5 separate regions of the Homo sapiens genome follow, and all the other regions are reported to be linked to region 2. The links are microRNA targets in miRTarBase. Many come from high-throughput screens and were not tested one by one. Region 2 holds a microRNA gene; each other region holds the end of a gene's coding sequence.

Region 1 (3,888 bases), not on the chromosome of region 2:
GAACAGGTCATTTGTTTCAAAAGATACTTAAATACTCAATAAAGACATAACAAACCCCACCCCCCCTCACTGTTATCAGACGCCACGTTGTGGTAGAACATCAGACAAACTCACAAATTTACCACAAAAATGTGTGGCAAAAAAGAATAGTTTATATATATGTATATATATAAATTTCTATATTTATGCCAATGTACTCACTCAGTACAAATAGCAAAATAGTATACCATTTCCTAAATACAAAATATAGCTTTCCAAAAAAATGAAACACACATTAGATATAAACCATCCAAAACTTGAACGATTGAAAACTGTATTCAAAATTAAATGACCCAGAGTAGGTCTCTTTCTGAAAAGTTCCCTTCATATCGGCAAGAAGCCTGTACTACTGAAAACGTAATTCAATGCCTCTCAATCAGAGAGAGAAAGAAAGAAAGGGGTGGAGGTGGAGGGAAGAAAACATGAGAAAAAAGAGAAAAAGACAAAAGAGCACATTCAAAGAACAAAGGAAGATCATCACAAAACAAAAAGAAGGAAAAATCTGGCTGTGTAAACAAAACCAACACCACAATTCCGCACAGTTCAACTAAATGTACAGGATAGAAAAAAAAAAAAAAAAAGAACAGAAAAGTAGCCTTCAACAATTAACAGGTTATTTTTTGTACACTTAAAAAATAAATGAAACGGACAAGGATACCAAAACATTATCTCAACACATAGAAGCCACACACACGTTGGCCTTACACTGCATTGACAGCTTTCCACATGCCAAAAGGAAAATGAGACATAAGCATGTGTCCAGACACAGGTGGTAGTGAGAAGCAGGCATCCCACGGGTGGCAAGAACACCCAAAACTGTATAACTAATGCTACAACTGCCAAGTTCTGGAGTGTGTTATTTTGCTCTTTATAGATGTAACACAAGTTAATTCTTCATTTTAAGTCAATGATACAACCCTGTAAAGCCTAAGGCTTGTGGGAACCATCAGGTAAGTGACCACTTCAAACTGTAAAGCACTGAGGTGACAAGTGAATTTATACTCACTGCAGATCAGGGAGAAGTGATATTTCAAGAAATTTTAGTTTGCCTTTTTTTTTTAATTAAAATTTATACTGTTTCCTATTAGAGGGAAAAATTTGAAGACTTCAGAACAGCACCGTTCATGGGGAAAAATGTGTTGTTTCTCAGGAATCAACTCCTAATAATTCCTAAGACAGTACTCTCTGCCCTGTGCTGCAGGATTGCTAGGTCACCCTAGATTAAAGTGGCCAAAGATGCTACAGGGTCATGAAGCCAGTAGTATATTAATAGTTCTCTAAAGTAAAGTGAAAAAGAGGTGAAAAGTAATATAGATATATATAAAAAGGGAATACCAGCCTAAGACTGGGTTAAGAAGAAAACATTCAAATTTTTCTGTCAATTTAAACTACTGTAGGAGGATATCAGAACATAATTTATCATATATTATCCCCTTCATTTTTTACAGATAATTATTTTTCTATGCACAGTTATGGCTAAACCCCTTAGTAGAAACCCAGAGAACTAACAACTCTCTGAAAAAATAAAATCAAGAAGCATTCCAGCTGTTCCCAGTTTTATAAGTGTATCATCTGCCTTTGTGTTAAATCAAGAGTACTTTTATCTGCACATACAGTTTACTTGTTAGAATGTTACCCTTCAGTTTCTCCAATAAAACTGAAAAAAGATTCCTTCACTTTGGCCAACAGCTGTGCCTTTTATATTGAAAAAAATCACAGCCTTAGTTATTATTGAACTTTACTTTTTCAAAAGCCATTACTTGACTAAAACAATGCAGGAAAGAAAATAATGAAGAACAAAAGTAAACATGATATATTATTTTCTAATAGCAATAATAACTGAGTGGTCCAGCCTTGAATTTAAACTGTACGTTTAAGGAAATTGCGCCTAGGAAAATAATAACAATTAATTCTGCCAGCTGGAAACTCAAATAGATTCTCAGTCATCACTGTTATTAGGAATATAAAATATGAAGATGTTAACATTGGTGGTTAGTTACTGCAACAAGCAGCATAGGTGTGCTCTTTTGCAGTCAGAGTAAAATCTATCAGTTTACTCAAACACAGTTTTTTATATTTTGTTTTGTTTTTAAAGTAATAATTCTCATGGAACCACAAGATCTCAGGACATCTTGGAATCAGGATTTTCTTCGTGGAATTTCTAAAAAAGAGAAAAAGTTTAATTTAACTTACTAGGGAGGGAAGCATTTATAAAGTTTCTGACACCCTGAATGATCCTAAAGTATATTATGGTACTGTAAGTAAAACTTTATCATATTTGATCTTCCACAGACTTTTCTGACTCAATATTTATTTCTGGAGGAAGGGATAAGTGAGGCATGGTTATATCCAATATATAGTACAAAGGAAACACATTTTGCATACTCATCAGATGTTTTGTTATTCCAAGGCAAAGAAGCTCAGAGGCAGAAGGAATGTCCAATATAGGTTGAGTATCCCTTATCTAAAATGTTTGGGATCAGAAGTGTTTCTGATTTCTTTTTTGGATTTTGGAATATGCACATATACACAATGAGATATCTTGGGGATAAGACACAAGTCCAAACATGAAATTCACTTCTGTTTCACATACACCTAAAAAAATCTATCACAGCTGAAGGGAGCTGGAAGGATCTTTTTTACCCTTGGGGACACCAAATAAACTGCATGTTGTGAGCCTGACTTTTGACTATGACCCTATCATATGAGGTTAGGTGTGGAATTTTCCACTTGAGATGTCATGTCAGCACTCAAAAAGATTCGGATTTCAGAGCATTTTGGATTTTGGATTTTTGGACTAGGGATGTTTGGTCTGTATTTTTTTTTTTTTTTGTATTTTTTAGTAGAGACGGGGTTTCACCATGTTAGCCAGGATGGTCTCGATCGCCTGACCTCGTGATCCGCCCACCTTGGTCTCTCAAAGTGCTGGGATTACAGGCATGAGCCACCACGCCCGGCCTGGTCTGTATTAACTATATGACCATAAGCTATCATTCAGAATAATTTTATTCAGAGTAAAAAAGTATCATCTTGTGAGAAAGCCACATTTTAAAAGATTAGAACTACTATTACTTAACCTAAATCTGTTAAGAAGAATAAAATCTGATGCTTTTCAATAAGAAGCCAAAATGCAATACTTACATATCCAGTTAAAAGGAGCCAGTCAAGTTGTTCCCTTGGTTTTGCAATGAAACAAGCAAATCAATCTTTTCGATGTTCTGGTTGGTGTTTATAGAGGATGCCAGTGGAGAATTCTCTGGCATTTGCTGAGAAAGAAGTGTTGTCACAGGTGGCTGGCCCTCGTTTTGTGGTTGGCCTGGCTGACTTATGGCCATCAACTGATCAGGCAATGTAGCTGGTCCAGAGGTTAAAAGCTGACTACAGTCTGCAGAGACATTGAAAACAGAAGCTTAAAAGCTGACTACAGTCTGCAGAAACATTAAAAATAGAAGCTATCTGATTAGTAAAGATTCATGAAAAGATATTTATTAGTTGTTGGGGAAAATTCATTACTGCATTCTCCTTGTATATTACTAAAAGTTAGGCACCTGATAGTCCAAGAAAAAGGTTTTCACAGACTGGCACTGGAATTCATCTTAGGTTTCCTTTAAGCAGTCTAAAAATACAACTTTGCTTAAATATCAAAAGTCCTATATAAATTCCTTGGTATATAAACATTAAAGATGAGTTTCTACCTCCTTAGAAACTACTTACTTCAACTGGGTAAGGTATTATCTGTCATTCTGACTTCATTTTCCTTTTAAGTTTATAGCTTAAAATGGCAAACACACATTTTTATACATTGCCATATTTAATCCTCCCCAAATCCATGTAAAGTATGTAATATTA
Region 2 (3,888 bases):
GAAAGAGGTAAAAGCAGGTGGACCTTTGTGTTAAATACAGGGGTCTGGAAAGCTCTCTCTGAGGATGTGGGTGGGAATGGAGTGGGGTGGACCAGAGGAAGGTCTGGGGTAGGAGCATTTCAGGAGGAGGGCAAGGCCCATGGAAAGCCCCCTGGCATCTTTAAGAAAAAGCAAGAAGGCCAGTGGGATTGAACCGAGCTGCTGGGAGTCGCTGGGTCTGAGCTGGGAGAGGCAGGACTCCAGGTTTTATTCTGAGTGAGATGGGGGATTTGGAAGGGTTGTGAGCAGGGGGGATGCGTGGTCTGTGTTGGAAAGATCACTCTGACCACAAGGGCATTGATAGAGAATCTACCCAGGGCAGTGATGGGGAACCTACCAGGAGCCTGGCGTGCCTGAGCTGGGCAGTTTCTCTAGGGGCACCTGCAGTGGCAAAAGGGGGCCCCCTCTGGACCTCCCTAGTTCAGTGGGCCCTGCGGGAGCCTGGCTGGCACCTTGATGTGCTTGATGGATAACTCAGTGTGCTCTGTTGAGAAGTCCAAGGCCCTGTTCAGAAACCCTGGGGTCTACACACTGCGGAGTGCTCCTGGCGTGTGACAAGTGGCTTCCCTCTTCTTATTTCTAAACCTTGTGCGTGTGGATTCAGGACCACAATTTCAACTCCAGGGAAGGGGGACTGTGCCAGCACCACTCCAAGGGAGGTGAGTGAAGGGTTGCCCAAACTCCAGTGTGTTCCTAGGACACCCGTAAGCTGCCTCACTAATGCTCGGTGTCCACTCTGTCCACAGGATGGTGGTTGGCAGCCACTCCCCTTGGAGAAGTGGAAGGGGACTCCTTGTCTGTCTTGTCTCTGCTTTTCTGTGGTACTTGAAGAGAAGTTGTTCGTGGTGGATTCGCTTTACTTATGACGAATCATTCACGGACAACACTTTTTTCAGTACCAAATGCTACCTCTAAGGACTTCCTGGACACAATGGCAGCTTCAGGAAAGATAGTCTTTGTGTCAACCATGTGGAAAAGCCAAGAATGGATGGCGGGCCATGGACAATGCGCTGACCTAGCTGTAAGTCACCTGGCCCGATAATCCGAGCCTCCCATGCACCTATAGGAGGTCTTCCCATGGGTCTCACCAACTCTGGGGAATCAGCTGTGGTTCTGTCACCAGCGTCACCTCACAAGACTTTGAAGAGAGGCTCCCTGGGCCCCAGGCCGACTTCCAGAAGAGATGTTGGTGTCAGCACCGTCCAGGGTGTGTGACTGGTTGACCAGAGGGGCATGCACTGTGTTCACCCTGTGGGCCACCTAGTCACCAACCCTCAGCATCACTCCCACTCCAGGAAGACTTTCCAGAGCTCCCACCAACTCTGGGGAAGCGGCCATGGACTTGCTGTGACTGCTTGGTGGACTGCGATGACACGTGCTCTTGGGGGTGTATGTTTACTTAAAATGCAATGAGTCAGCCTTGGCAGCCCCTTCACCACTGTGACAGCCTCCTTGAAGTGTTGACTTCCGATGTGGGACGCCATGTTGTCTTCTGTTGAGGGACCTGATGTGGGCCAGCTTTTCTCCTGGGTGTGTGACTGAATCCTTCTTCCCAGAGCATGTGCTGCCTTTGTTAGGTCTGTCACGTCGTCCTCTAATACCCAGCATCCTGTCTCTCCCTAGGAGGCTCCATGGAGATAATGCGGCTTTGGGAAGCGGCCATGATTCTCCTGTCAGGGACCAGTGAGCTACGCAAAAGCTCCCTGTCTTGTCTGGAAGGACGAACTGCATCCTTGCTGCTGGGGAGAAGGCAGTGCCCTCAGCACTCCCTTAAGGTAAGTGCGCCTCGGGTGAGCATGCACTTAATGTGGGTGTATGTCACTCGGCTCGGCCCACTACCCAATACTATCCCACCCATTCCTAACAGGACTCCCGAGAAGGGCGGCCACCTCTGCCAGAGAGGCAATGGATTTCTCACCAGTGTTCATGTGTGGTACTTGGAGAGAGGCTGGCCGTGATGAATTCGATTCATCAAAGCGAGTCATACACGGCTCTCCTCTCTTTTAGTGTCAAATTCTGCCTCGGAGGGCTTCCTGAGCCAGTGCTGCTTCCAAGGTAGGTTTCTGGATGGCTGACCCCATGGCAAGCATTTTCCTGAGGATGCATGTAACTGACCTACTAACTTTAGAGTCCAAGCTGACCCTAAAACAACTTCCTGGGGCACTACCAACTTTAGGAAAATCGAGAGAGGTTGTTGGGATGCCCTAATTTTTTAAAAGTTAAGATTGAAATACACATGGCTGACTTCTTTTTTTATTCCTATCAAATTCAACCTTGGAGTTGAATCTTGGGCATCTAGAAGCATCTTTTATTAGTCAGCCGTCGGGATACAGAAGAAAACAGGAACAGGACTCTGTGCGACCCCTGGTTTACTAACCCACAGCAGCCTTACACCCTCCAGAGAATTCCTGTAAGGGAATCCCAGGTTTACCAAGGAGGCAGTGCTTAGCCTGCTTTTGCACACACATTTGTGTGTGGTTTGCTTCATATTTAATGACTCCTGTGCCACTGACATCCTTGCATTATTAAATGTTGCCTGCATGGCCAGCTGAGCACAAGAAGTGGTATTTCTGTGCACACTAATCCTGGCTTGGTGAACCTGGGGTTGGCCGGAGAGCATGGGTTTGAGCCACCTGGTCCACTCATCCTCAGGGTCCCATCCACCCTCAGAGGCCACTCCCAAGCTGCCCAGGCTGTGCAGAAGATGCAGGAATGCTGCGAGCAGTGCCACCTCATGGTACTCGGAGGGAGGTTGTCCGTGGTGAGTTCGCATTATTTAATGATGCCCAATACACGGTCGACCTCTTTTCGGTATCAGATCTCACCAGGTGTCTTCTTGGACCTGATGCCGATTTAGGGGACACCATACTCATGTTGGTTCCACACCAGTGCAACTGAACATGTGTGTGGCCCTGGAACCAATGGGTAGGTGCTGCTAGCACTCCTAATCCTCAGCCAGTGCATTCCTGGGGAAGAAGCATGTGATCTGTGCTCAAGACCCCTCTGTGACTGAGGAAGTGGTGGTGCCCATGATGCTTCTGGGGTTTTGTGTTTTTTTTTAAAGAAAAACAATGTATAGTTCTCTTCTCTTTCACTATTAAATCTTACCATGGAGGAAGGACTTCTTAGACATGTTGACAAATTCAGGGAAGGGGCGTTGATTTCAGCATTCTTGGGGACTCACTGGAAGGGTGACTCACCACATCTGTTGATCTGGAGGCCACAGCAAATTTAAGAACAGAAGACAGTTGCATTTTCAATTTCTTGTTTTTCTTTTCAAAAAGGATAATTATTCTACCTTATTACCATATTTATGAAAATGACACATGCTTAATAAAATTCAAGCGATGTGGAAAAATCTAAATGAAAAAGAAGGAAAATTGCCCAATTCTCTGGCACCCAGAAATAACCATTAAGGGCTTTAGAAATTTCATACACCTGTCTGAGCATACATGCAAATAGAAAAACAAGACAGACGCAGGGAAAATATGAGATCACACTGTACCTAATCATTTTATTAAAAATGCTAACTATAATTTTCCTTGAATTTATCATAAAAAACAAGCTAAAGGAGATTGAAATGATTGATAAATGTTTCTCGCTTTACCACCACAGGTAGCAACTCCTAAAAGATCCCTGTAAAATTAAGAAAAATTAGAGTGTAAAAATTAAGTGGTTAGGATTGTTATGGTTTTTAACTATTTCAATTTCACTCCTAGTTCAGAAAGATAAAGAAGTCAGCATTCTTATTCTTCCTTTGCTTACTATCTCCTGCTTTTTCTCAATTATACATTTTAATTTTACATTATAAATATCTGCAATTTGTTCTAGAACTATAATTCTTGCAGG
Region 3 (3,727 bases), not on the chromosome of region 2:
TAAATTTAAATTCACAAAAAACTGTACATTATCAAAAAGTCACTAAAACACCACATTTGGTTATATAAAAAGTCCCTTTTGCTGTAAAAGGAACACAGAAACTTGTTGGTGTTGATGGTGTGGTTTCTTCCTGTCAACCAGACTGATGGGAGGGAAGCAAAAGGGCAGGGGGTGGGTTGTCTTTTTATTTTAAACCTGCTTTCCCTACCAAATACTCTTGTCATGAAGAGAAAATCCACCTAGCTCAAGGGGGCAGTGAAGATGAGGAAAGAAAAGCAAGAAATGGCCCCTTTGATCATGCCCTATCCCTACCACCCCCAACCCCGCTCCAGCCCCCACTTCTTCAAACTGAGGCTAGGACCCCACCCCGCCATATGAGTGCCTGGTCCCTAGGGAAAGAGATGGAGCTGGGAGAGGAACACAAAGCAGGAACCATGGAGATTTCACTCCCCCATCCACCTCACAATTTCACTCCCCCATCCACCTCACAATGAAATTAATCTAGCACATCTTATACCAGGGGAAAATTGCCAGGGGGAAAAAGCAGAGCCCCCAACTCTAACAGTTTCAACTGTCTAACACAAAGTTTGTTACAGCGCAGTTATTTAGATAAAATATAAATATTTATGCATAATATAAAGTCAATTCAAATATTCTTCAATCCACCTCTTAAAAGCAAAAAAAAATCTCAAATAAAATTAAAAGTTTTGAGGTTTATCTGACAGAAAAGGCGACTTTAGAAATAGGCTATGAGGGAGAAGGGGCATAAAGGAATAAAGGGGCTGCCCCAGGACCTACACTGCCCCTACCCCCTTCAGTGGCTCTTCAGTGCTGCCAGAATACAAGGAATGCTCCACCTCACCTGGCACCCCCACCCCCCAATGGAACATTTCTTGGATGCCTCAGCTCTCTGCTTGGGCCAGCCAGCAGCCACCTCCCCAGTGCAAGTACCCGTAATCTCTGAAGGGAGGGGCTCTGCTGAGCAGGAAAAGCAGGGGGCCAAGTGCCCATGGCTATAGCTGGGAGTCAGCAGCTTTCCTCTCGTGTTGGGGGCTTAACTTGGACATAGTCACATGTAGGGCAGTGATGGACCCAGAACCCCTCCTCCCTACTCTCCTGTGCTCCAGGGTCTCTGCTGCTGGGGAAGGGGTCCTGGGGTATGAAGTAAATGAAGAAAAGCACAACTAAATGGGATTAGGAAATGATCCAGTTCTACCACTCTCCCGTAGAAGCTTAAGATTCAAAGCTACCGAGAAGAGAGGGAGTTCCTGCTGAAAGATTGCACAGTCTGAAGAGGCTGGAACAAAAATGACCAGGAGAGAGACACAGCCTTGTCTCCAGAGAAATTGTTCCTGTGGTTTCCCAAAGACAAAAAAGTGATGGTTTTAAACAATGGGAAAAATGGGAATGAAAACAGGTACTTGGGGAAACTGAATGGATCCTATCAAACAATACAGGGTCACAAGCACGCACACACACACACACACACAGCGCGCGCTCTGAGGCTGACACACACACACACACACACAGCGCGCTCTGAGGCCGACACACACACACACACACACACACACACACACACACAGCGCTCTCTCTGAGGCCGGCCCCATTGCTACCTGGCCTCCATCTTAGGGTGCACCCAAACTCAGCAGTAGTTGTCCCTGAGGAGTTCCCAAGAGGGTTTGGGAAGGAGGTGGGGAAGGAGGCTGGAAGGCCCAGGAAGCCTCCCTGCCCTCTCCCCAGCTACTGAGTTTCAGAAAAGGCTGGAAACTCAGCATGTGAGGAGCATCCAACATCATACAGGGGATAGCTATCGGCAGGAAGATGGGGACAGAAGACAGGGACCTCTGAACATTTTTTTTTCCTTTGAAGGGAAAAGATTTGGGAGAAGAGAAAAGGAGGGAGGAACCCGTACACGATAGTTTTACATTATTGGATGAGAGAAAATCTGAAAACTGGGGGGTGGGAGGTGGGAAAAGAAAGACAGCGAGAAGCAGGGAAGGGACTGAACATGGAAGCAGCATGTCCAGGGCCCGGTGTCCGGCGCGACACACTTGGGAGTTAAGTCCACTTTACTGGCCGTCACTGCGGGTCCGCACACAGTACAGAGTGTTTCTTGGTTTCACACATTCACTAGAACTATTGCTATTGTTAAATAACCCCAGAATGCTGGGGCACGTACAGGGGAGGAGAGGAAGCAGGGAGGAGGAAGTAGGGACGACTTTCCCCCTCCCCATTTTTAATTAGCAAATAAAACAGAAAAGAAAAATTATTTTTTTCTTTCTTTTTTTGGCTTTTAGTCCAGAAGGACCTCATCTCTGCACCTCTTACTTGAGGAGCAAGAGGAGGGAAGGGAGAAAGGGATGTAGGAATAAGAGGATGTGGGGCACTGCCAAGGGCAAGGTCAAAAATCAGGGTTGTATCTGACTTGAGTCTGGACCCAGGGCAGCATCAGCAGGTGAAAATGGCAGGTTTTTGTTTGGAAGGTGGGGGGAGATGCCACAAGGTGACTCCCCACCTCCCTTGCCTCACAGATTGGCCTGTTTTCCCTGATAAAACTCCTCCCAGCGGCTCTCGAAGAAGCGGCGCATGATGTGCCCAGCCTTGCCTACTTCAGAGTCATCCTCGTTGAAAGTCTGGCAGTTGTCAAATACCAGGAGGGCATCAGCCGCAAACTCCTCTGAGCTGGTGTACCTGGACAGGGCAGGGGCAAAACTGTGAGCTGGGTAGGAGTTGCAGCAGTAGCAAAGACCGGGCGGTTCACCCACATCTACTTACCCTCCCCTGAGCAGCCGCTCCCGCATGGTGGAAAAATCCATAGGATTTTTGATGATGCGCCGGTACCCACTCACCAAACGTGGGTTCACAGGCTCTAGGAAAGGCCAGGCTGCATCATGGGACTCCATCTCCATCAGGATAATCCTATCATTAGAGGGACAATGATGGCTCCATCTCAGGAAGCAAATATACTGACCCCTCCCAGCCCTTTCCTCTGGCAGAGGTAGAGCCAACTGTCCCCCCAGGATTCACTCAACTCACTCGCAAAATGTGAGATCACTGTGGTGGTTCCGCATAGAGAGTCGCCGCCGCTTGGAGGGGGAGAGCCCTTCTTCCGAGTACCGAGGCCCTGCTGCTGGGCTTTCTCGGCCCCTCAACAGTACCCGGCGTCGGCGGCCATCACCCTCTGAGAAGTTCAGCGAATAACCACTTTTCCGCTTCTGGCCACGCTTTGGGAAACCAGGCTTCTGAGTGAATTCTCCCTCCACCTGCTTAGTATAGGAAACAGGTGAGATTAGCAACAGCTGGAGATGCACTGCTTGCCCTACTACAATCTCTGCCTAAATATGATTTAAGGCTTCAAAATACTATCATGCATAAGCCGGCATTGGTTTATTCACATAACCCAATGAAGTAGGTAAAAGGGAAGGTATAGTTATTCTCATTTTATAGAGACAGCAATTAAAGCTATAGAATTTAAGTGACTTGTCCAAAAAAGGACTTAGAACCCAGGTCCCCTAATACCCAGTCTAGGACTCTTTCCAAGGAGAGGAGAGATTGAGGATAATCTCTGATTTCTGTTTGAGTGTGGGAAAGAAAGAGCAGAAGCCTTACCTGAGCCAAACAGACAGTACAGAACCAATCTCCTTCTGGGACAGCCTCCATCTTGGGACGATGGCAGTAAATGTGGCAGCCACGGTCACACCCATCACAAAGCAGAAGAAACTCATCA
Region 4 (3,888 bases), not on the chromosome of region 2:
ATTTGGGGTCAGGAACTAGATTTCAGTCCTGCTTTCACCGTTTACTGTGCCTTGGATTTTAAAGAGGATCAAATGAGGTTGTGAAAGTACTTTGTGAATTCAGAAAACCCCTTGGAAATGCAAAAATGTTGGCACCCCCACCCATCCTTCCGTCCCTAACCACAATCTCCATAGATGGAATATATGTACATTATACGTAATGTTTACATATTGTATATGTAAAAAAAATTTTTTTTTGAGACGGAGTCTCACTGTCGCCCAGGCTGGAGTGCAGTGGCGCTATCTCGGCTCACTGCAGCCCCGCCTCCTGGGTTCAAGCGGTTCTTCTGTCTCAGCCTCCCTAGTAGCTGGAAGTACAGGCGCACGCCACCACACCCAGCTAATTTTTGTATTTTTAGTAGAGACGGGGTTTCACCATTGGCCAGGCTGGTCTCGAACTCCTGACCTCGTGATACGCCTGCCTCAGCCTCCCAAAGTGCTGGGATTACAGGCATGAGCCACCGCGCCCGGCCAAAAATTTTGTAATTTTTTTTTTTTGGTGGAGGGAGGATAGAAGCTCAGCCACCTCTTGCCCAGTCTGCAGCAGGTCAGCCAGGAACCTCAACCATCTCTGCAGCCAGAGCCTGTCTTCATGGTGGACAGAGCCATCTCGCTTTGTCACCCAGGCTCGGGTACAGTGGCACAGTCTCAGCTCACTGCAGCCTCAACCTCTTGGGCTCAAGCGATCCTGCCACCTCAGCCTCCCAAGTAGCTGGGACTACAGGTGTGTGCCACCACGCCTGGCTAATTTTTGTATTTTTAGTAGAGATGGGTTTTCGCCATGTTGGCCAGACTGGTCTCAACTTCCTGCCCTCAGGTGATATGCCTGCCTCAGCCTCCCAAAGTGCTGGGATTACAAGCGTGAGTCACCATGCCTGGCCTATATCAAAATATTTATTTATATACACATATTTTATGTGTGTGTGTGTGTGTGTGTGTGTGTGTGTGTGTGTGTGTATTTCATAAGGTCCCCCATGATATTTCAGCAGTGAAGTGATATTTCTAATTAATTTGGGTTTTCTTATCTTCCCAATTTTCCTTCATTGTATATATATTGCTGTGTACTATGGAAAAAGCAATATTATAAAAGTTAACATACTTCTTCGGTGCGCATGCGACGAGGCTCAATATGTGTGGTGGAGTGTGCACGCCCCTGCCCCCTCCACTAAAAACAAAACAAAAAAACCCTCCTTAATTGAAGGAAAAACCAAACAAAAAAAGTCTTTGTCAGATCATAAAGTGGGATTATCATATTTTAAACACATTATTTTAACTACTTATAAAACTTTAGTAATAAAACTGCCGCCCACTCCCTTGCCAAACAAATTTTGTATATATAGATATGGTATATAAGGCCCCAACCCCATCCCCCAGCAAAGATAAAACAAGAACTGCTCCCTGCACCCTGTGTCCACTCCCAGGGGCCCCAGCTTCCTCCGGAAAACCTCCAGTAATGTGAGCAGGGGCCCCTCCCGGAAACAGGAGACAAAAAACAAAGAGGTGGCTACTGTCACAGTACTTTATTGCATCCAGGCCATAATCCAGACCACCCAGCCCCAACCCCACTTTTCCTTCCACACCTCTTGGTCTCTGCACAGGTTTCCCTCTGCCTGGAATGCCCTTCCTATTCTCCATCTGCAAACTCCTATTCACACTCCCCAACCTAAGACCCTGAGGGTCCCAGGCAGCACAGGTTAATCCCTCTCCAGCACCTCCCTTGACAGTTCATTCTGATATCAAAGCCTTTGTCGGCCAGGCGCAGTGGCTCATGCCGGTAATCCCAGCACTTTGGGAGGCCGAGACGGGCAGATCACCTGAGGTCAGGAGTTCAAGACCAGCCTGACCAACATGGAGAAACCCCGTCTCTACTAAAAATACAGAAAATTAGCCAGGCATGGTGGTGCATGCCTGTAACCCCAGCTACTCGGGAGGCTGAGGCAGGAAAATCGCTTGAACCTGGGAGGCGGAGGTGCAGTGAGCCGAGATCGCACCATTTTACTCCAGCCTAGCCAACAAGAGCGAAACTCCTCAAAAAAAAAAAAAAAAAAAAAAAAAAAAAAAGCCTTTGTCATCTTGCATTGATCCACAGGGCCCAGTGGTGACCTGCCTCTGAGCAGAGGCCCAGGAAACACTGAATGGATAAATGAATCCGTAACAAGGGAACCAGGAGAGAAGCTGGGAACAGGCCGTGTGGGACACAGAAGCCAGAGCTAGGAGATCTGGGGCTCACTGTCTGGGATAGTGACTGAAGGAGTATGAAGCACTGGATGGGACCCATTTGTATCTGGCACAATCTACTACCTTTGGGGTCTCTCTGCAGCTCCAACACTTGTGGCTGGGCTTCAAGGGACAGTAAGATCCTGTATATATTTTGGGCCTACCCCTTCCGCATCCAGCAATGAAATCTGAGTAGAAGTAGGTTGCCAAGGCCTCCCCTGGCTCAGCTCAAATCTGACTCTGGCCTAAGTTTCACCTCCTGCCTAGACAATCTAGAAGCCCCAATCCTCACCAAGCTGACCCCCAGCCTCACCCCAGTGAGTGGCAGTGGAAGGGCAAGCTGGAGTGGCCCACACCGTTAACTCTTTCCCTCTCCCTGGGCAAGGAGCTGGGGCAGGCCCAGGAGTGGACCCCAGCAACTCCTAGCCAATCCCTAAATCCAAGAATTGGCCAGTGATGCCCTTGGCAGTTGAGTCGTGCACAGAGAGTCACTGTGGGCCAGACACAAACAACTTTACCAGGCCTTGTTCCCACCTGGAGCCAAACCCAGACCCCTGTCCCCCAACTATACCTCCCTCCCTACCAGATGCCATCCCCCTTCACTTGGTCTTCTGATCAAGTTTGCGCTGTACCAGCTGGCTCAGGAGGAATGCAGTGAGGATGCTGCTGCCCACCGTGAGCAGGAAGAGGCCAGAAAAGTTGTGAGGCCAGTGCGTGTGCAGAGGCTCATAGATGGGCCGTCGGGCCTCATAGTCCAGTGCCACAGCCTCCAGCTGAGCCAGCGTGCACAGCACCAAGAAGATGTGGAAAAGTTGGTGGCCCTGCCCGAAGACATGGCAGCTGCCAGGGAACCAGCGCTCGGGCATGAAGGTAGAGAAGAAGGCAGCAGCCAGCAGAAAGAAGACCACCTGGCACTTGTGGTAGAGAAGAGCTGGATCATCCGTGGTGGGGTCGGAGGACACGAAGATACGATGCACCACAGGACTAATGTCCAGTGCGTAGGCCAGGACGGAGGGCACCTCCTGGCATGTGCGGCCCAGCAGGCCTGGTTTCTGGATGTACTTGTTATAGCAGGAGCCAATGCAGGAAAGCCAGGCGAGAAAGGCAGCCATGGGCAGAAAAACAGCCTGCACCTGGGCATGCCAGGCGGGCTCGATAGCATAGTAGAAGTGTGCCAAGGCACTGCCAAACTGGTACACGGCCACCCCCACATAGTCCAGGAAGAAGAAGCTGTAATGCCAGAACTCAGACTTGGCCTGCAGGAGGTGAGCCAAGGCACTGAAGGAGAGGTAGGTGAAAGAGGCAAGGACAATGATGAAGAGGGGCAGGGCGTGTGGGTCTCCCCAGAAGTCCACGGTCTCCACAAAGAGGGCCAGCCGCAGCAGCAGTACCAGGGCCGCCAGCAGGTGGGTCCAGACATTCACGGCCTCGTTGTGCTGCTGGAACAGCGTGCGGAAATAGAAGCGCCAGGTCTGATGCAGCGGCCGGTAGCCCGCATAGATGTACGGCTTCCAGAAGAGCGGCGGCACCTCAGCTCGATCCACCGTGAAGACAGGCTCTGGCTGCAGAGATAGCTGAGGCTCCTGGATGACCTGCCGCAGACTCGGCAGGAGGTGGCTGAGTTTCTGGGCC
Region 5 (3,888 bases), not on the chromosome of region 2:
CCAGCCCTTGATAGAGAAGCAAGCACAAAGCAGTTGCACAATATGAGTTTGTGGAATGAAAACATGAACTCCTGAAAAGGGGCAAATGGCCAGGTGCGGTGGCTCACACCTGGAATCCCAGCACTTTGGGAGGCTGAGGTGGGTGGATCACCTGAGGTCAGGAGTTCGAGACCAGCCTGGCCAACATGGCAAAACCCCATCTCTACAAAAAGTACAAAAATTAGCTGGGCATGGTGGTGGGCGCCTGTAATTCCAGCTACTCAGGAGGCTGAGGCACAAGAATGGCTTGAACCTGGGAGGCGGAGGTTGCAGTGAGCCAAGACGGAAAAGAAACAACCTTAGAATACTCATAGAACTTTAAATTGTAATGAGATATAATTGTTGATGGCTAAACACACACACAAAAATTATATATACTTTTTAGAAGCTTTAGTGGCTGGGCACAGTGGCTCACACCTGTAATCTCGGCACTTTAGGAGGCCAAGGTGGGAAGATCTTCTGAGGTCAGGAGTTCGAGAGCAACCTGGCCAACATGGCAAAACTCCATCTCTACTAAAAATGCAAAAAAATTAGCTGCACGTGGTGGCATGCGCCTGTAGTCCCGGCTACTCGAGAGGCTGAGGCAGGAGAATCGCTTGAACCTAGGAGGCCGAGGTTGCAGTGAGCTGAGATCGTGCCATTGCACTCCAGCCTGGGCAACAAGAGTGAAACTCCATCTCAAAAAATAAATAAATAAATAAATATGGACAAAGTTGTATACTATGTCATTGCTTATTGTATCAAAACAGATCAGAACAACCCAACCTTCCATTGGCGGGGGAATGATTTAAATAATTGTGCTAGATGGAATCTCATGTAGTCATTTTTTAAATAAAGAGAGTTAGCTTTACATTTATGGACATTGAACTATATCCAGGATATGTCGTTAAGTAAAAAAGCAAGTTGAGGCTGGCCGCGGTGGCTCACGCTTGTAATCCCAGCACTTCGGGAGACCAAGGCGGGTCAGGAGTTCGAGAACAGCCTGGCCAACATGGTGAAACCCCATCTCTACTAATACAAAAATTAGCTGGGTGTGGTGGCACACACCTGTAATTGCAGCTACTCAGCAGGCTGAGGCAGGAGAATCGCTTGAACCCGGGAGGCAGAGGTTGCAGTGAGCTGAGATTGCACCACTGCACTCCAGCCTGGGCAACAGAGCAAAACTTCGTCTCAAAAAGAAAAAAAAAAAAAAAAAAAGAAGCTGAGGAACAGTATGCTTAGTATGCTAAAATTTTTTGTTTAAAATATTTGTTGACATGTACACAGAAAAACATCTGAAAGAAAGCACCTCAACTGTTGATGAGACTCTCTGAGCACTGAGATAGAAGGGGCTGCCCCTGGCCGGGCGCGGTGGCTCATGCCTATAATCCCAACACTCTGGGAGGCCGAAGCTGTGGAGCCCTTGAGTTTGGGAGTTCAAGACCAGCCTGGCCAACATGGTGAAACCCTGTCTCCACCAAAAAATACAAAAATTAGCCGGGCATGGTGGCGGGCGCTTGTAATCCCAGCCACTCAGGAGGCTGAGGCAGGAGAATCGCTTGAACCGGGGAGACAGAGGTGGCAGTGAGCCGAGATCATACCACTGCACTCCGGCCTGGGTGACAGACTGAGACTCCATCTTAAAAAAAAAAAAAATAAAGCTCGGGGGGAGGGTTGCCCCTTTTCTTTTCTGACTAGGTAATATGTGAGCAAAGAATTCAAACAAGACCAAAAAGCTGCCAGGGAAAAGTAGATTCTACCTCTCTCTTGACCCACAGACGCCTCTGGGGAGAAAGGAAATCTCCGTTTTACTTTATACATGTCTGTAATGTTAGTACTTTTTATTTTTTTAACAAAGATCATTGCTTTTTATTATACTTTATCAAATTCAATCTAGTAACAAAAGTAAAAAAGAATGTTCACTGTAGAAAATTTGCAAACTATACAAAAGTTTCAGAAGAAAATAAATATCACCTACAATCTCATCTTCCAGAGGAAAAAACCATTTAGTGCCTTTCCCTTGAATCTGTTTTTATACACATACATCCTTTTTAAAAAGTTCATAGACCAGGCGTGGTGGCTCATGCCTGTCATCCCAGCACTTTGGGAGGCCGAGGCAGGTGGATCACGAGGTCAGGAGATCGAGACCATCCTGGCTAACATGGTGAAACCCTGTCTCTATTAAATATACAAAAAAATTAGCCAAGCGTGGTGGAGGGCACCTGTAGTCCCAGCTACTCGGGAGGCTGAGGCAGGAGAAGGGCGTGAACCCGGGAGGCAGAGCTTGCAGTGAGCCGAGATCGCACCACTGCACTCCAGCCTGGGGGACAGAGGGAGATTCTGTCTCAAAAAAAAAAAAAAAAATTTGTTTAGCCAATCTTTTATCAGCAAACATGTAGGTTGTTTGCTATTTCAGAAAAATGTTTTGCACGTGAAAGAAAGAATAGCCCTTATGAGGCACACAGGGTCCAGGACAGCAGAGCAAAAGTCCCTGCAGGCAACCCTTCCTGACCCCATCCTACAGGGTCTCTGCCCAGGCCTTCCTGGGCCCCTCCGGGAGCACTGCCAGGGGCCTGGGCCAACTGGCCTGGAAGCCTTGCCTTTTCCCTGTGGAGGCGCAGAGGCTCTGGTTTGTCTGTCCTGGCCCCGGGATCATTTTCCAGCACACAGCACAGTCTAGTCCATCCACTCTCCCCACTCCCCAAATTCAAGGTCATCAGGGTTCTGGTGGCCTGGAGATGGGTACAACATTCTCATACTCAGGTTCCTCCTGCCTTTCCTCTTCAGCCTGCTTCTGGGGATCCTGTTCTGGGGAGCCACAGCCAGAGACTGGCTCCTGGGCTCTCCTTGAACTCTCGGTGCCAGCCCCCAGCCCCCGGACCGCTTCCTCTGGTCTGACTGCCATAGGCCCTGTGGCCCCAGGAAGCCCAGCTTTTGGGGCTGAGTTGGGGCTCTGGCCGACAGAGCCAGAGGCAAGGCCAGGGCTGCCCTTTTTCCGATTCAGGGCCTGGCGCGGAGGCTTAGGGATGGCCCTCTTGACCTTGGCTTCCGCCTGGCCTTTCTGGAAGCTACCAAAATGGCGGAAGACAGAGCGGACAGGGCCTTCGGATCCGCGGGGCTTCCCTGCCAGCATGTAGATCGTGGTCACAGGGCCCGAGCTCTCCTGGACGCTGCCCTCAATGGCTTCCACGTGCTCAGCCACTGTCCGGCCACCAAGTGGGGGCCGCCGGTGGCCAGTGGCTGAATCCCCGGGACTGGCAGCCGCCGGAAAGGACTCGGGGGCTTCTGCTTCCTCTGGGCCTGTGGACTCTTCGGCTTCCCGGCCCTCAGGACCCGACTGCGCCCCCCGGGAGAGCCTCTTGGGCTTTCGGAGCGGGCTGGAGAGCTCCCCTGAGCTTCGGCGACTCTGTGGTGCAAACTTGGTACCTTCCGCGAAGGAGACCGATGGCCGCTTGGCCCGAGCTAGGCTGGAGGTGCGCGGGATGGCGAATGGCGTGGAGGCGTCCTCAGGGGGCGGGAAAGCACCTGCAGCCAGGCTGGCCTCTGACGACCCTGCCTGGGCCACAGGGACCATCCCTGGCAGAGGAGACAGAAGAGCTTGGCTGGAGCTGAACTGGCCACCCCAATGCATCCTACCCACAGCTCAGCATCTTCCAGGAGGCCTCAAAAATAGGGCAAGGAAGAGGGCAAGGATGAGGAGAGTGGCAGAAGGACCAATTCAGGTAGACACTGTTACTTCTACACTTTTTTTTTTTTTAATTGTAGAGATGGGGTCTCACTATGTTGGCCAGGCTGGTATCAAACCCCTGGCCTCAAGCAGTCCTCCCGCCTCAGCCTCCCAAAGTGCTGGGATCACAGGTGTGAGTCACC

The links. The annotated mature microRNA hsa-miR-485-5p reads AGAGGCUGGCCGUGAUGAAUUC and lies in region 2 at 1,983-2,004, shown strand. An mRNA with a match to its seed (bases 2 to 7 or 8) in the 3' UTR can be bound and repressed. Matches are read on the target gene's strand: a 7mer-m8 pairs with bases 2 to 8, a 7mer-A1 pairs with bases 2 to 7 and ends in A, and an 8mer does both.
Region 1: miRTarBase lists NFAT5 as a target of hsa-miR-485-5p. The part of its 3' UTR that is shown has no 7-base or 8-base seed match.
Region 3: the mRNA of BAZ2A is a reported target of hsa-miR-485-5p. Seed matches in the 3' UTR shown: 7mer-m8 at 1,700-1,706, 8mer at 1,501-1,508, 7mer-m8 at 1,294-1,300 and 7mer-A1 at 350-356.
Region 4: miRTarBase lists PAQR7 as a target of hsa-miR-485-5p. Seed matches in the 3' UTR shown: 7mer-m8 at 1,968-1,974.
Region 5: miRTarBase lists SCARF1 as a target of hsa-miR-485-5p. Seed matches in the 3' UTR shown: 7mer-m8 at 2,261-2,267.

Annotation. Positions count from the first base shown.
Region 1 is chr16:69,694,672-69,698,559 of GRCh38, reverse strand. NFAT5 (nuclear factor of activated T cells 5) reads right to left here. Exons shown (of 15, transcript NM_138713.4): 14 at 3,181-3,424; 15 at 1-2,200. The coding sequence ends at 3,189. Among named protein-coding and RNA genes, the nearest start is that of SNORD13H, 12 kb to the left of the region's middle.
Region 2 is chr14:101,053,445-101,057,332 of GRCh38, forward strand. MIR485 (microRNA 485) reads left to right here and starts at 1,975; the gene lies at 1,975-2,047. MIR382 (microRNA 382) reads left to right here and starts at 862; the gene lies at 862-937. MIR134 (microRNA 134) reads left to right here and starts at 1,243; the gene lies at 1,243-1,315. It overlaps MIR668 (microRNA 668), which reads left to right and starts at 1,814; the gene lies at 1,814-1,879. It also overlaps MIR323B.
Region 3 is chr12:56,596,093-56,599,819 of GRCh38, forward strand. BAZ2A (bromodomain adjacent to zinc finger domain 2A) reads right to left here. Exons shown (of 29, transcript NM_001300905.2): 26 at 3,610-3,727; 27 at 3,037-3,266; 28 at 2,776-2,919; 29 at 1-2,691. The coding sequence ends at 2,526. It overlaps RBMS2 (RNA binding motif single stranded interacting protein 2), which reads left to right. Exons shown (of 14, transcript NM_002898.4): 14 at 1-101. Among named protein-coding and RNA genes, the nearest start is that of BAZ2A, 32 kb to the right of the region's middle.
Region 4 is chr1:25,859,944-25,863,831 of GRCh38, forward strand. PAQR7 (progestin and adipoQ receptor family member 7) reads right to left here. Exons shown (of 3, transcript NM_178422.6): 3 at 1,541-3,888. The coding sequence ends at 2,856. Among named protein-coding and RNA genes, the nearest start is that of AUNIP, 2.4 kb to the left of the region's middle. RefSeq lists enhancers at 1-420, 2,705-3,474 and a silencer at 272-331.
Region 5 is chr17:1,632,024-1,635,911 of GRCh38, forward strand. SCARF1 (scavenger receptor class F member 1) reads right to left here. Exons shown (of 11, transcript NM_003693.4): 11 at 1,835-3,594. The coding sequence ends at 2,735. Among named protein-coding and RNA genes, the nearest start is that of SLC43A2, 5.1 kb to the left of the region's middle.